Linked DNA regions of Homo sapiens: regions 2 and 3 are each linked to region 1. Evidence: fine-mapped expression QTL. A gene starts in region 1. Each other region holds a variant in brackets. All regions are shown on one strand. Distances are from middle to middle.

Region 1 (4,273 bases):
TAGCCAGCTGTCTTTTGTCAATAGAATTCCACTAACATCATTCTATCTGACATCTATTGTATCTGATAGAGGAGCTGAAATCTCTCACCTGGATAAGTGTGAGGAATAAGCATTCCGGCTGCCACATCACTGGTGGTATCTGGAGTAAACTTGTCTGAAATGATGGTAACGGAGCATCGGGGCACCAGTTTGGAGATGCACACAGCCGTGGAGAGCCCCACCACACCTGCCCCGACAACTGCAATCCGTGCTGTGTCCATGAGCCTGTGAGGAGGGAAATGGGAGCTATACCCCTTGTTTTAAGGATTTTCCCATCCAGACAAAGTTTGGTCTTGACAGTTTTTTCCTTAGGTCTTCAGCCACTCAGAATAAGACTTAGCCTATTGGTGTTTCTTGTGAGATAAAGAGGATAACCCCATAAGCTCACTTTCCATTAAATATTGGTGTATAAGCAACAAGATCTCCATGGGCTTTTAGAGAGTAACACAAAACTGGCTTGGATTTGCCTTTAGAACACCTAGCCAGTAAGTAGGTCTGCATTTGGAGGAGTTTTCTACTCATTCTTCACCCTTCCCTTTTTTTTCCCCCTGAAAGGGGGTCTTGCTCTGTTGCCCAGCCTGGAGTACAGCGACGAGATCTCGGCTCACTGCAACCTCCGCCTCCCAGGTTCAAGCAATTCTCCTGCCTTAGCCTCCTGAGTAACTGGGATTACAGGTGCCCACCACCACGCCAGGTTAATTTTTGTATTTTTAGTAGAGATAGGGTTTCAGCATGTTGGCTAGGCTGGTCTCGAACTCCTGACCTTGTGATCCGCCGGCCCCAGCCTCCCAAAGTGCTGGGATTACAGGCGTGAGCCACCATGCCCGGCTTCATCCCCCTTTCCTAAACCATTTTCCCTATGGGCACAACCTAGGGAAGGTTGACAGAAAACCACAGAGCTGTAGTCTTTGCTCCCAGAACTACCTGAGGAGCAGTGGTGAGGGGCATGACCCATGAGCAACTCAAAACTCAACTCTGTCTACAAAGTTGTTTCTAATAATAAGGACATTACAGAAAGTTTCAGCAGCTGAACTCAGTCTCCTCTGCCATCTGCCACTGTCACCGGCCCCCTGTCTGTCCTGGACAGGTTCTGTAACCTGAGGAGCAGTCCGTGGTCTCCTAGCCTCCACTCCCTCATCTGTAACACAGAACAGATGGATTACTTGCTCCTTTGGGTGGTAAATAAGAGAGACCCAGTGAGGCGGTCTCATAAAGGGGGCTCCTTGGGAGAGTCTGAATGGAAATGCAGGGGACAGACATCCCGGAGCCCGGGCCAGGTGTCCTGAGGCTGGCACCCTCTGTCCCACCCCTCACCCACGGAGCCTTGCTCCACTGTCAGCATCCCCGCCTGCCTTTGCTTCCCTGTTTTTGGCTTTCCCCATCTGTTCCTGCTCTGACTCTTTCTGTATGGCTCAGGTTTAAACTCCAGAGAGAGAAAATGCAGTTGTACCAGTTGGTCATTGCATCCCCTGTTGGACAAAATTCTAGCACCAGGCCAACTTGCTGGGCTAAACCAGCCTCTGAATGTGCCCTTGGCATAGTTGCCCTTCTCTGTCCAAAGCACAGTAATCAGGGTACTGGGCCACATGGTACAAACCATGGCCACCCACACACAGAGGTTCACCTTTCCTCTGGAAGGCTGGGCAGCTTCCTCAGCAAGGGCTGTTGGCAGGAAAAACGTGGGCTTGGTTGTTAGTGGCCTCTGCTTTCTCTTCCAGTTCTGAAGATTCTCGCACTATGAGACTTTAAAGCCCTCCAATGAAGTTTAGTGTGATATTCCTATTCCTCGAGCAGTCTATGCATTTCTGTGCTAATTTGATACGTTAATTTGATTGCTGTACAGTGGGCTGGTCAGCTGAGAGAGAGTGGGCCTGCCAGGGCTGAGGGAAGAGAAGGGAACGGGCCCAGGCCAGAGCAGTCTGGTGGGGGCCAGCTTGAGTAGAGCTGTCCTGCAGCCACCAGTGACCTTATTGACTTCGCTGTTTCACATCAGCCTCCCATGTCCAGCAACTCTCTCAAAACAGCTCTAATAAACTAAGTTGAAAGGGCAAGCAATCTGTGGCTAAGAATAACCAGCTGCCAGGGAGGAGGAGTGAGCGAGCAATGTGGTGTGTCCTGGCACAGTGGCCTGTCCATCACTGTCCCCTGACCCTATTCAGACACACTCCCAAACTCCCAGAGCATGGACGGAACGACCCCTCAGCTGAAAGCAAGAATTCAAGTACCTGTCTCTGAAAAAGCAGTCTTGGAAGCCACCAAAATCTCTGGCACCAAACCTTGTTTCCCAGTGCCTGGCTGGTCTCATGCCCTGAGAGACAGAGAGAAAGCGAAACTGATTCCCATTGGTGACTTGATTCAGGACATTCCCCCTGGTCTTCCTTTCCATTGGCCTGCATGGCTGTCTCTGTCACCCATTGCCCCGGAGAAAGGAGCAAGTGACCTCAACCTGTCATCTCCATGGCGCTGTCTCTGCCAAGCCCTTCCCTTTCTGGCCCACGAGCCCTCTGTCTGGCCGCCAGCCTGGGCTTTCTCCAGCTGATTTGTAGGTATGGTGAATAATGGGTGAGCCTGTCCAACTTCCAACCTCGTTTGGCTGCCCACAGTTAGCCGGGTGCCTGGCTCTGCTGGGTCAGCTGGTGGGGGAAGCAGGAAGGAGGGGGTGAGGGCTGAGTAATGTTGTTGATTGATTGGAGCTGGAAACACTATTCAGGAGATAATCTAGGATAGAACCACATGATTCTTTAGCCCAGCAGTCCCCAGCCTTTTAGGCACCAGGGGCTGGTTTCATGGAAGACAATTTTTCCACAGACTGGGGATGGGGAGATGGTTTCAGGATGATTCAAGTGTGTTACATTTACTGTGCACTTTATTTTTATTATTATTCGTTGTAATATATAATGAAATAATTATACAACTCAACATAATGTAGAATTAGTGGGAGCCCTGAGCTTGTTTTCCTGCAATTAGATGGTTTTCTCTGAAAGTAATGGGAGGCAGTGACAGATCATCAGGCATTAGATTCTCATAAAGAGCACACAAACTGGATCCCTTGTGTGCGCAGTTTACAGTAGGTTTGTGCTCCTATAAGAATCTAGTGCCTCAGCTGATCTGACAAGAGGCAGAGCTCAGGCAGTAATGCAAATGATAGGGAGTGGGTATAAATGAAGACAAAGCTTTGCTTGCTCACCCACGGCTCACCTCCTGCTGTGAGGCCAGTTCCTAACAGGCCACGGACTGGTAGTGGTCTGTGGCCTGGGGATTTGGGATCCCTGATTTAGCCCACATATTCAAAGAAGGGATTCAATATTTGATGAGTGTCTACTGAGCTCTAGGCATGAGGCACAGTTAACAAGTTTGTTTCCAGGGAGGCAGTGTGATGTGTCAAATTAGTGACAATAATATTTTCAATAATGTATATGTAGCATTAACCATGTGCTAGACACATGTATGACATCATATATCACAACCACCCTATGAAGTAGGTACTATTATCACTATCCCCATTTTGTATATGAGTACATTGAGGCTCCAAGACAGTAAGGAAGGGTCCAGGGTCTCTTAAATGGTAAAATCCAGTCTGGATATCTGACGTCAAGGCTCAAGCTCTTTTTTTTTTTTTTTTTTTTTTTTGAGATGGAGTCTCGCTCTGTCACCCAGGCGGGAGTGCAGTGGCTCTATCTCAGCTAACTGCAAGCTCTGCTTCCTGGTTTCATGCCATTCTCCTGCCTCAGCTTCTCTAGTAGCTGGGACTACAGGCGCCCGCCACCACACCTGGCTAATTTTTTGTATTTTTAGCAGAGACGGGGTTTCAACATGTTAGCCAGGATGGTCTCGATCTCCTGACCTTGTGATCTGCCCGCCTCGGCTTCCCAAAGTGCTGGGATTACAGGCTTGAGCCACTGTGCCCAGCCAAAGCTCAAGCCCTTAACCAAAACACAAACTTTGGTTTCAAGAGACCTGCATTTTTACCTTGAGCAAATCACCTGACTTCTGAGTTGGATTGCCCATCTGAAAACTGAGAATGAACTAAGAATCCCTTGCAAGTTGTTGTAGGTCTCTGATAAGTTGAGATATGTACAATTCTTTGTAAGGTGGTCTGAGGGCCGGTGAGGGGGTGGTGGGGAAAAGCAACTTTTTCTCTGGCTATGCTCAATACTGTCACAGTCACTGAATACAGAACACTTTCTGTGACCAGGTGTGTGGGGGTTGTCTCCCTACACACCAAGCATCCCAT
Region 2 (4,273 bases), 37 kb before region 1:
ACTCAGGCAGAGGTTAACTGCAAGACGTGATGAATATGTAAGCAAAGCTGTAGTTACATCTGAATAGTTACAGATTTTTTAAATTCTTTTTTTTCTTTTTTGAGACGGAGTTTCACTCTTGTTGCCCAGGCTGGAGTGCAGTAGCACGATCTCAGCTCACTGCAACCTCCGCCTCCGGGGTTCAAGTGATTCTCCTGCCTCAGCCTCCCGAGTAGCTGGGATTACAGGTGGGGTTCACCATGTTAAGTCAGGCTGGTCTCAAACTCCTGACCTCAGGTAATCCACCGGCCTCGGCCTCCCAAAGTGCTGGGATTACAGGTGTGAGCCACCAAGCCCAGATTTTAAAATTCTTAATAGCAAATATGGAGGACTTAAAAACGAGTGGAAACAAAATATAAGAGAACAATAACATAGAAGATGGGAGAGGTGCTTGGGATTACAGTATTCTAAGATTCTTATATTGATTGGGAGGAAAATGATGAGGTTAACTTTACACCTTTTAAGTCAAGTATGCATATAAAATATTTAGGTTAACTACTAAGGAAAATAGGAAGGAAGGGAAGGAGGAAAAGAGAAAGGAGAAGGAAGGGAGGAGGGGAGAGAAAGAGAGAGAGGGAAGGAGTGAAGTGTAACATCTTAACTAGTGGCAGTGGAGAGGGGAAGGACTAAAAGAAAACTTGATCAACCTAGGAAGACAGGAATGGGGGAAGGAGGTAAAAAAAAAATCCTATGGCATCATGTCTAGGGCACCGTGGGCAAACCACAGATTAAGGGAGAGGGGAGCATGAGTAATTCAGCTGGACTGGCTATTTAGACAAGCAGTCTAATTGGTGGCTCTAAGGAAAAGGAGCTCCTAGTATTTTGAGGGGGAGGTGGAATGTGGGAGGGAAGACTAGATCCTAGGTTGAGGCAAAATTTCCAATGCTTTTTTTTTTTTTGCATCATGATCACCTGAGGAGCTTCTTCAAAATTCTAAATCATGAGCCATATTGCATATCTAATAAATCAGAATTTCAGATAGTAGGACCTAGGAGGTATATTTCTAAAATCCCTTCTGGTGCTTCTGGGGCACAAGAAGCAAGTCTGCTCCTGGGGAGGAAGAGGAAAGGAGTTGGCAAGATCTAAGCAGAGGCTCAAGTTCTCAAAGAAACAAGATGGGGTTCAACACAGGATCCTACTTCTGGCACAGAAACCAGCGATATACCAGAACCCCCAGGCAGCAGATAAGCCAGATCTGCAGAGCTTGGCCTCAGCCCTGCTGGCTGGCAAGTGCTCAGGCCTCCCAGATGCCAGCCTTGGTGTCTGATCTGGTTAGGCATTGTGTCCCCACCCCAATCTTACCTTGAATTGTAGCTCCCATAATCCCTATGTGTTGTGGGAGGGACCCGGTGGAAGATAAATGAATCATGGGGGCGAGTCTTTCCCATGCTATTCTTGTGGTAGTGAATGAGTCTCATGAGATCTGATGGTTTTGTAAAGGGGAGTTTCGCTGCACAAGTTATCTTCTCTTGTCTGCCACCAAGTGAGATGTGCCTTTCACCTTCTGCCATGATTGTGAGGTCTCCCCAGCCACATGGAGCTGTGAGTTCATTAAGCCTCTTTCTTTTGTAAATTGCCCAGTCTCGAGTTATGTCTTTATCAGCAGCGTGAAAACAGACTAATACGGTGCCATGACTGATTCAGTGTCCTGGGCATGGTTGATGATGGGCATCCCTTGCACTGCCAGGCTTGGACATCACTGGCCAAGGGACTGAGGTGGGCATCCAGGTCAGGGGTCTTTGGGACCTGGACTGGAGGGCTGCAACGCCATCCATCTTTTGGCCTAGTCCAGGTTTTCTGTCCTCCTCAGAGGCTCAGGTGGCTGAGGTTCTAGCATGCCCATGCCCAGGCCCACGAGTATGCTCTTGGCATGGCCTAAGGCCTGGTTCTCAGCCCTAGCTGTTCATCAGGAAGCTCCCAGAGAAGCTGTCAAACATAGACATTCCTGGTTCCCACCCTGTGAGATTTTGATCTGAGAGGTCTGGAATAGAGCTTAAGCACCTGTATATGTTTAACCCCCCAGGTGATTCTAATATATAACCAGGACTGGAAATCTAAATCTGTGGTTCT[C/T]GATCCTGGATGCACATTAAAATCACCAAGGTGGGGGTGGGAGCAGATTTTTTAAAAATACTAATACTTGCCGTCTGTATCATAAAGATTCTAACTCTCTTGGTCTGGCAGTGGGCCCAGGTATGTTTTTTAGTTTGTTCAGTTGGTTGGTTTTGGGTTGGTTTTAGCTGCCCAGGTGATTCTAATGCACAGTCAGGATTGAAGACCCCTGGTCCAGAGGATTTTGTTCAGGGAAGTTAACTCGTATTTGAGTGAGTGCCAGGAAAAGGCAAGCCCTGGGGAAGATCCGACATACTGAAGGGCTATTGGTGGGCCAGGTAGACAGCAGTGCGCTGGGGCAGTGTGGGAAGGGCCAGGCGGAGACAAGCCAACAGCCTCAACAGAAGGCTTTCTGGCCAAAGCAATTTGTTGACACAGGTCTGACTTTTTAAAATCTATTATCTTGGGGGCCAAGATGGCTAACTAGAAGCAGCAGTGCTGAGAGGCTCCCATCCAAAATAAGCCATAATAAGTGTATGAATTCTTCACCAGCAACCAAGGTATCCAGGTTCTGTCATCAAAATTGACTAGAAGGCTGGCGTGACCCACAGAGAGAAAGAAGAGCAGTGTGGTGGGGCAGCCCACCTGAGAGCCACACAGGGAAGGGGAACCCTTGGGCCCCCTCACTCACCGCCTCCCTCCTCCAGCCGAGGGAAGCAGTGAGTGAGCACTCTACCCAGCAGGGGAAACTGTGCTTTTTCCACAGAACTGTGCAACTCACGGATCGGAAGTTCTCACTGATGAACCCACGCTACCGGGCCTAGCATCCTAACCGTGGAACATGCAGATTTTTGAGGCCTCTCAGCTGGAATCTGCTTAAGCCTACCAAACTCCCTGAGGGAGGAGTGACCAGCAGGGGCTGCGGCTGCCTGCTGTCTAAGCCCTTTGAGCTCTTTGGGGGCGGGGCAGCAGCCAGCACTGGGACTCACAACTGCCTAACACGCTAAGCTCCTGGGCAGGGGAATAGCGGCACCCATCTCTATACCTCCAGGCTGCACTTTTCCCCTGCTGGAGCCAGGGAGGCTGAGTGGTTTGGTCCCAAGAATTATCCCCACAGCCCAACACACCACCTGTGGCAGTCTGCGGCCAGAGTGCCTCTTCAGGTCTAACCCATCTTTCCTAATTGGGCGGGGCTACCCTGCAGGATCTCCAATAATGCCAGCCAGAGGCTTAGGGACAGAATTTGGATGTCCCTGGGCCTGAGCCCCTAGAGGGAGAAGTGGCCCCAGTCTCTGCAGACCAGCAGACTTAGCCTTTCCGGAGTCCTGGTAGTTCTGAGGAATCTGGGAAGCCCAGATGAGTGGGTTTCCCTGAAGTGAAGCCCACCTTCTCCACCAAGGGACAAAGTGCTTCATTAAATGGGTCCTGCTCCCTGTGCTGCCCAACTGGGTGAGACCCTCTAACAGGGGTTGTCAGATACCCTATACAGGAGTGATACTACTGGCATCAGGTTGGTGCCCCTCAAGGTCAGAGGTCCCAGAAGAAGGAGCAGGCACCCATCTTTGCTACTCTCCAGCCTCCTTGAGTGACGTCTCCAGGCATGGGAGCGAATCAGATGAATAGGGCCTGAAGTGAACCCCCAGCAACCTGCAGCAGCCCTACAGAAGAGGGGCCTGACTATTGAAAAAAAAACAAGCCAGCAGAAAGCCACAACAACAACAACAACAAAAGGCCCCCACAAAAACCCCATCCAAGGGTCAGTAGCCTCAAAGACTGAAACTAGACAAACTCAGAATAATGAGAAAGAATCAGTGAGAAAATGCTGAAAACCCAAAAGGCCAGAGTGCCCCTTCTCCTCCAAATGATTGCAATGTCTCTCCATCAGGGGCGCAGAACTAGATGGAGGATCAGATGGATGAATTGACAGAAGCAGGCTTCAGAAGATGAGTAATAAAAAACTACGCTGAGCTAAAGGAGCATGTTCTAACCCAACGCAAAGAAGCTAAGAACCTTGATAAAAGATTAGAGGAATTGCTAACTAGAATAACCAGTTTAGAGAGGAACATAAATGACCTGATGGAGCTGAAAACCGCAGCACGAGAACTTCGTTTAGCATACACAAGTATCAACAGCTGAATTGACCAAGTAGAAGAAAAGATATCAAAGTTTGAAGACCACCTTACTG
Region 3 (4,175 bases), 57 kb after region 1:
AATATGACTGGAAATAGAACATAAATCATGTACGTATGGTGCACATATTTATAATTATTTGACTCCCATCCCTGAAATTTCAACTCAGCAAACGACAACACAGCCCCTGCAAACAGCAGGCATGTTTAACTTGCCTAAAGTTTACCTGAGGCATTTGGGTTTGTTCCCTAACTAGTCTCTACCTGGAACAGCTCCACCACTGAAAAGCTCAGGTTCTGAGCATGACCTCCCACCCTCTTACTTCCCCCATCCTTCCCACTGACCCCATTTCCAGCACCATTCAGGCGTCCAGTCTTCAGATCCTACCAGCTTCTTCAGTTAGTTTCTACCTTCCTGGCCTCAGTTTTTTTCTTCCTCAGCCAGTGACCCCCACAGTCATCACCACATCACCAGAACTATTCTCTCTCTCTCTTCCCCTCTCCTTCTCTCTTTGTGTCTTTTTCTCTTGTGCACACACACACATACACCAACACAGCACCCACCCTGGCAGGCCTCTGAAGCTAGGATTTGTCTTTTCTGTCCCCCTCTTAGCAATCGTGATTCAGGAGGTCTAAGGTGGGGTCAAGGCCCCTACAAGCTTAAGAAGCTTCTTAGGAGATGCTGATACGGATGAAAACATTGCCCCAGGATATCTAGTTTTCTGGTTAAACTATGTACTGGTACAAGGTTTGACATTCAAAATACTGGACAATTGTTGTGGAGCAACTGAAAAACCAATAAACAGCTTGTGAGGGTGACATTTGTTATAACCATTTTGCAAAACTCTCTGGCAGGGGACCACATGCACCGCCTGTGACAGCATCTCCTAGGTATCTACCCAGCGAAATGCATACACAGGTAGAGCCACATGCCACAAAACGACGTTTCGGTCAATGATGAACCACATATACAACAGTGGTCCCATAAGATTATAATATTAATATCATATTTTTACCACACCCTTTCCATGTTTAGGTACACAAATACTTCCCATTGTGTTACAATTGCCTACAGTATTCAGTACAATAACATGCTGTGCAGGTTTGTAGTCTAGGAGCAGTGGGCTATACCATAGAGCCTAAATGTGTAGCAGGCTGTACCATCTAGGCTTGTGTAAATAAAATCTGTGATGTTTGCAGAACAACAAAATCACCTAACGATGAACTTCTCAGAAGTATCTCTGTCGTTAAGCAAAATATAACCCTACCCTAAAAGACAAATGCAAGAAAGGCAACTCATATAAGCCCAACCTGGACACAGTCTAAACGTCTGTTGACAGTAAATGAATGAACCGTGAAATATTTGTGCCATTAAATACTATGTAGCTGTGAAAATCGACTAACCTCTGTGACACACAATATGGGTGGATCTCACAAACACAGTGTGGAACAAAAGAAGCCAAAGGGCAAGTGCCTTTTACCCCACTTATGTAACATTTAGTATCGTTGATGTAAGGACAGTAGTGAGCTTGGGGGACAGGGACGGAGTAGGGCTTGGGAGAAGGCATAAGAGGAGATGATTTGGGTGGGGGTAACACAGGTGTGTTCACTGTATGACAACTCATCAGGCTGTAGATTATGGTGGACACTTTTCTGCATATATGTAATATATCAATTTAAAAGTTTTCTATCTACAGCGCCCAGGGAGAGGGAAAACTATTCAGCAACACCC[C/T]TGCTGAGGCACAGCTGGAACAGGTGCCAGGCATGCCTAATCTGTCCACAAGGCACTGGTCCAGCTGGACTGCAGCCCTGGGTGGCCACCTGATCCATATTGACAAGGGGGCATTTTCCCTGAGCAACAGATTATCTACCCAACTTCCCACTTGATGTCTCCACCTGGAATTCCCACAAGGAACTCAAGGTAAACCAATCTCAAACTGAGCTCGATATCTAGGCCTGCCCCGCCTGGAGGGTAACTTTCTGAGTTTAGGCTACCATCACCCACACAAACTAGAAATCCAGGGCATGGGACATGGGGTGGGCTAGGAGGGGCATGTGGTCCCATTCACTTCTCCTTCATGCCTTAGGGCCAAGAGCTCCCATCAACTCCACCTGCTAAAACTGTCTGGTTCTCCCTGCCCACACTCCCACTCTCCAGACCCTCTTTCTCTCTCACCTGGGCTCTTATCTAGGTCTTCACTGGCCCCCTTGCCCCACTCGCTGCCCCTCCAATCCACCCTCTGCACTGCAAAACCCAAACTTCTGATACCCAAACTTTGCAAAAACACTCATGGAGATGACTGTAAGCTTACCTCCTGCCTCTCTCACTCTCATATTTTATACCCCCAAAATAATAAACCACTAAGTGGCCCCCAATCAAGCCATGCTAGTTCACATAAACACACTTTCCATGTGCTAGAAAGGTCCTAAGCACTCCTTCAATTCAAATTTCCCTTTCCCTTTTGCAAGAATAACCTCTTGAAAAAAAACCAAGCCCCATTTCCTTAGGCGTCTAGCATTCTAACACATCACTCTCTCTTTTACAAAGATTCTTGGCCCTCAGAGGTGTCATGCATGTACCCAACCTAGGGGTCCACCAGGACAACAGGCTTATAGATATGACACTCTAATGGAAAAATAATCACACAAACACAATCGGCAGAAAACCCAGAGGCGAGGAAAAGCAAGGGCGGCCAGAAGCCCCAGGGAATGGACCCATGCAATCTGAGTGACGGATGAAGAAAACTGCTTTCAGTCCTAGATTATACCATTCCATATAAAAGCATAACTGGTGGAGTCCATCATGGCTAAGAGCATGGACTCTGGAGCCAGACTGCCAAGGTTTGATCTTGGCCCTGTTACTTACCACCAGGGACCATGAGCAAGATCCTTAGCCTTTCTGTGCCTCAGTTTCCTCATCTAAACTATGGGCTTTGTGGGAATGAAATGAGTTAACACATGGAAAGCACTCTATGACACACCGTAGCTGTATATAAATGATAGATGTTATGATGTTCACACACTGAAGTCAAAAAAGAGCCAGAAAAACTCTATATACTGAAACAAAACAAAACAAAACCCTACCTCTATCCATTGATGAAGGTCTGCCACAGGCTCCACATTCCAACTCTAAACTTTTAAACCGTCTCTCCTCTTAACCCAGGACAACTAACTCAGGGATCCAGGTTCAGATCCTCCCAACACAGGTGCCTAAATTTCAGTCTTCTCAATTTCTTTTCATATGGAGCTTAAGCTGTGAAGTTTATGGAAACGATATGGTTTCAGGAGAAATCCTGGAATGGTATTTTAGTTCTTCTCAGGTATCCTGTTTTCCCTTTTTTTTTTTTTTTTTTTTTTTTTTTTTTTTTTTTTTTTTTTTTTTTTTTGAGACGGAATCTCGTTCTGTCGCCCGGGCTGGAGTGCAGTGGCGCAATCTCGGCTCACTGCAAGCTCTGCCTCCTGGGTTCACGCCATTCTCCTGCCTCAGCCTCCCAAGTAGCTGGGACCACAGGCCCCCGCCACCATGCCAGGCTCATTTTTTTGTATTTTTAGTGGAGACTTGGTTTCACTACATTAGCCAGGATGGTCTCGAGCTCCCGACCTCGTGATCTGCCTGCCTCAGCCTCCCAAAGTGCTGGGATTACAGGCATGAACCACCGCACCTGGCCTGTTTTCCCCTTTTAAAGGTGACTAGAATAGTGCTTCCTTATTCTAGAAATGACCAATGAGAAATGAGAGGTAATCAGGGTTCTCTACTGTAGGGGTCCCAAAGCCCCAGGCCATAGACCAGACTGGTCCATGGCCTGTTAGAAACTGGACCACACAGCAGGAGGTGAGCAGCGGCCAGCGAGCATTACTTCCTAAGCTCCACCTCCTGTCAGATCAGCGGCGGCATTAGATTCTCATAGGAACGTGAACCCCATTGTGAACTGCACATGCGAGGGATCTAGGCTGAGTGCTCCTTATGAGAATCTAATGCCTGATGATCTGAGGTGAAACAGTTCCATCCTGAAACCATCCTCCCGACCCCACCACAGGTCTGTGGAAAAAATATCTTCCACGAAACCAGTCCCTGGTGCTAAAAAGGTTAGGGACCAGGTCTGTGGAAAAAATGTCTTCCACAAAACCAGTCCCTGGTGCTAAAAAGGTTGGGGACCACTGCTCTACTTAACACTTTCACTAGGATCCCTTAAAGAGAGGACTAAATAATCATCACAATAACTTTCCTTTCTGTTTATAAAGAATAGATACCAATTA

Evidence for each region. PIP is the estimated chance that this variant, and not a neighbour inherited with it, causes the effect. A credible set is the group of variants that fine-mapping cannot tell apart.
Region 2: its variant is the best candidate, but not a certain one, in a credible set for the expression of DDO in whole blood (TOPMed, PIP 0.68).
Region 3: its variant is the best candidate, but not a certain one, in a credible set for the expression of DDO in nasal epithelium (TOPMed, PIP 0.62).

What each region holds. Positions count from the first base shown.
Region 1 is chr6:110,413,203-110,417,475 of GRCh38, forward strand. DDO (D-aspartate oxidase) reads right to left here and starts at 2,373. Exons shown (of 5, transcript NM_001372108.2): 1 at 2,265-2,373; 2 at 89-264. The coding sequence starts at 260. It overlaps LOC105377936 (a long non-coding RNA gene), which reads left to right and starts at 2,442. Exons shown (of 2, transcript XR_942856.2): 1 at 2,442-2,585.
Region 2 is chr6:110,375,730-110,380,002 of GRCh38, forward strand. No RefSeq gene overlaps it. Among named protein-coding and RNA genes, the nearest start is that of METTL24, 20 kb to the left of the region's middle. The variant C/T (reference allele first, on the strand shown) is at 2,110.
Region 3 is chr6:110,470,239-110,474,413 of GRCh38, forward strand. All of the region lies in intron 1 of SLC22A16 (solute carrier family 22 member 16), which reads right to left. Among named protein-coding and RNA genes, the nearest start is that of SLC22A16, 4.3 kb to the right of the region's middle. The variant C/T (reference allele first, on the strand shown) is at 1,651.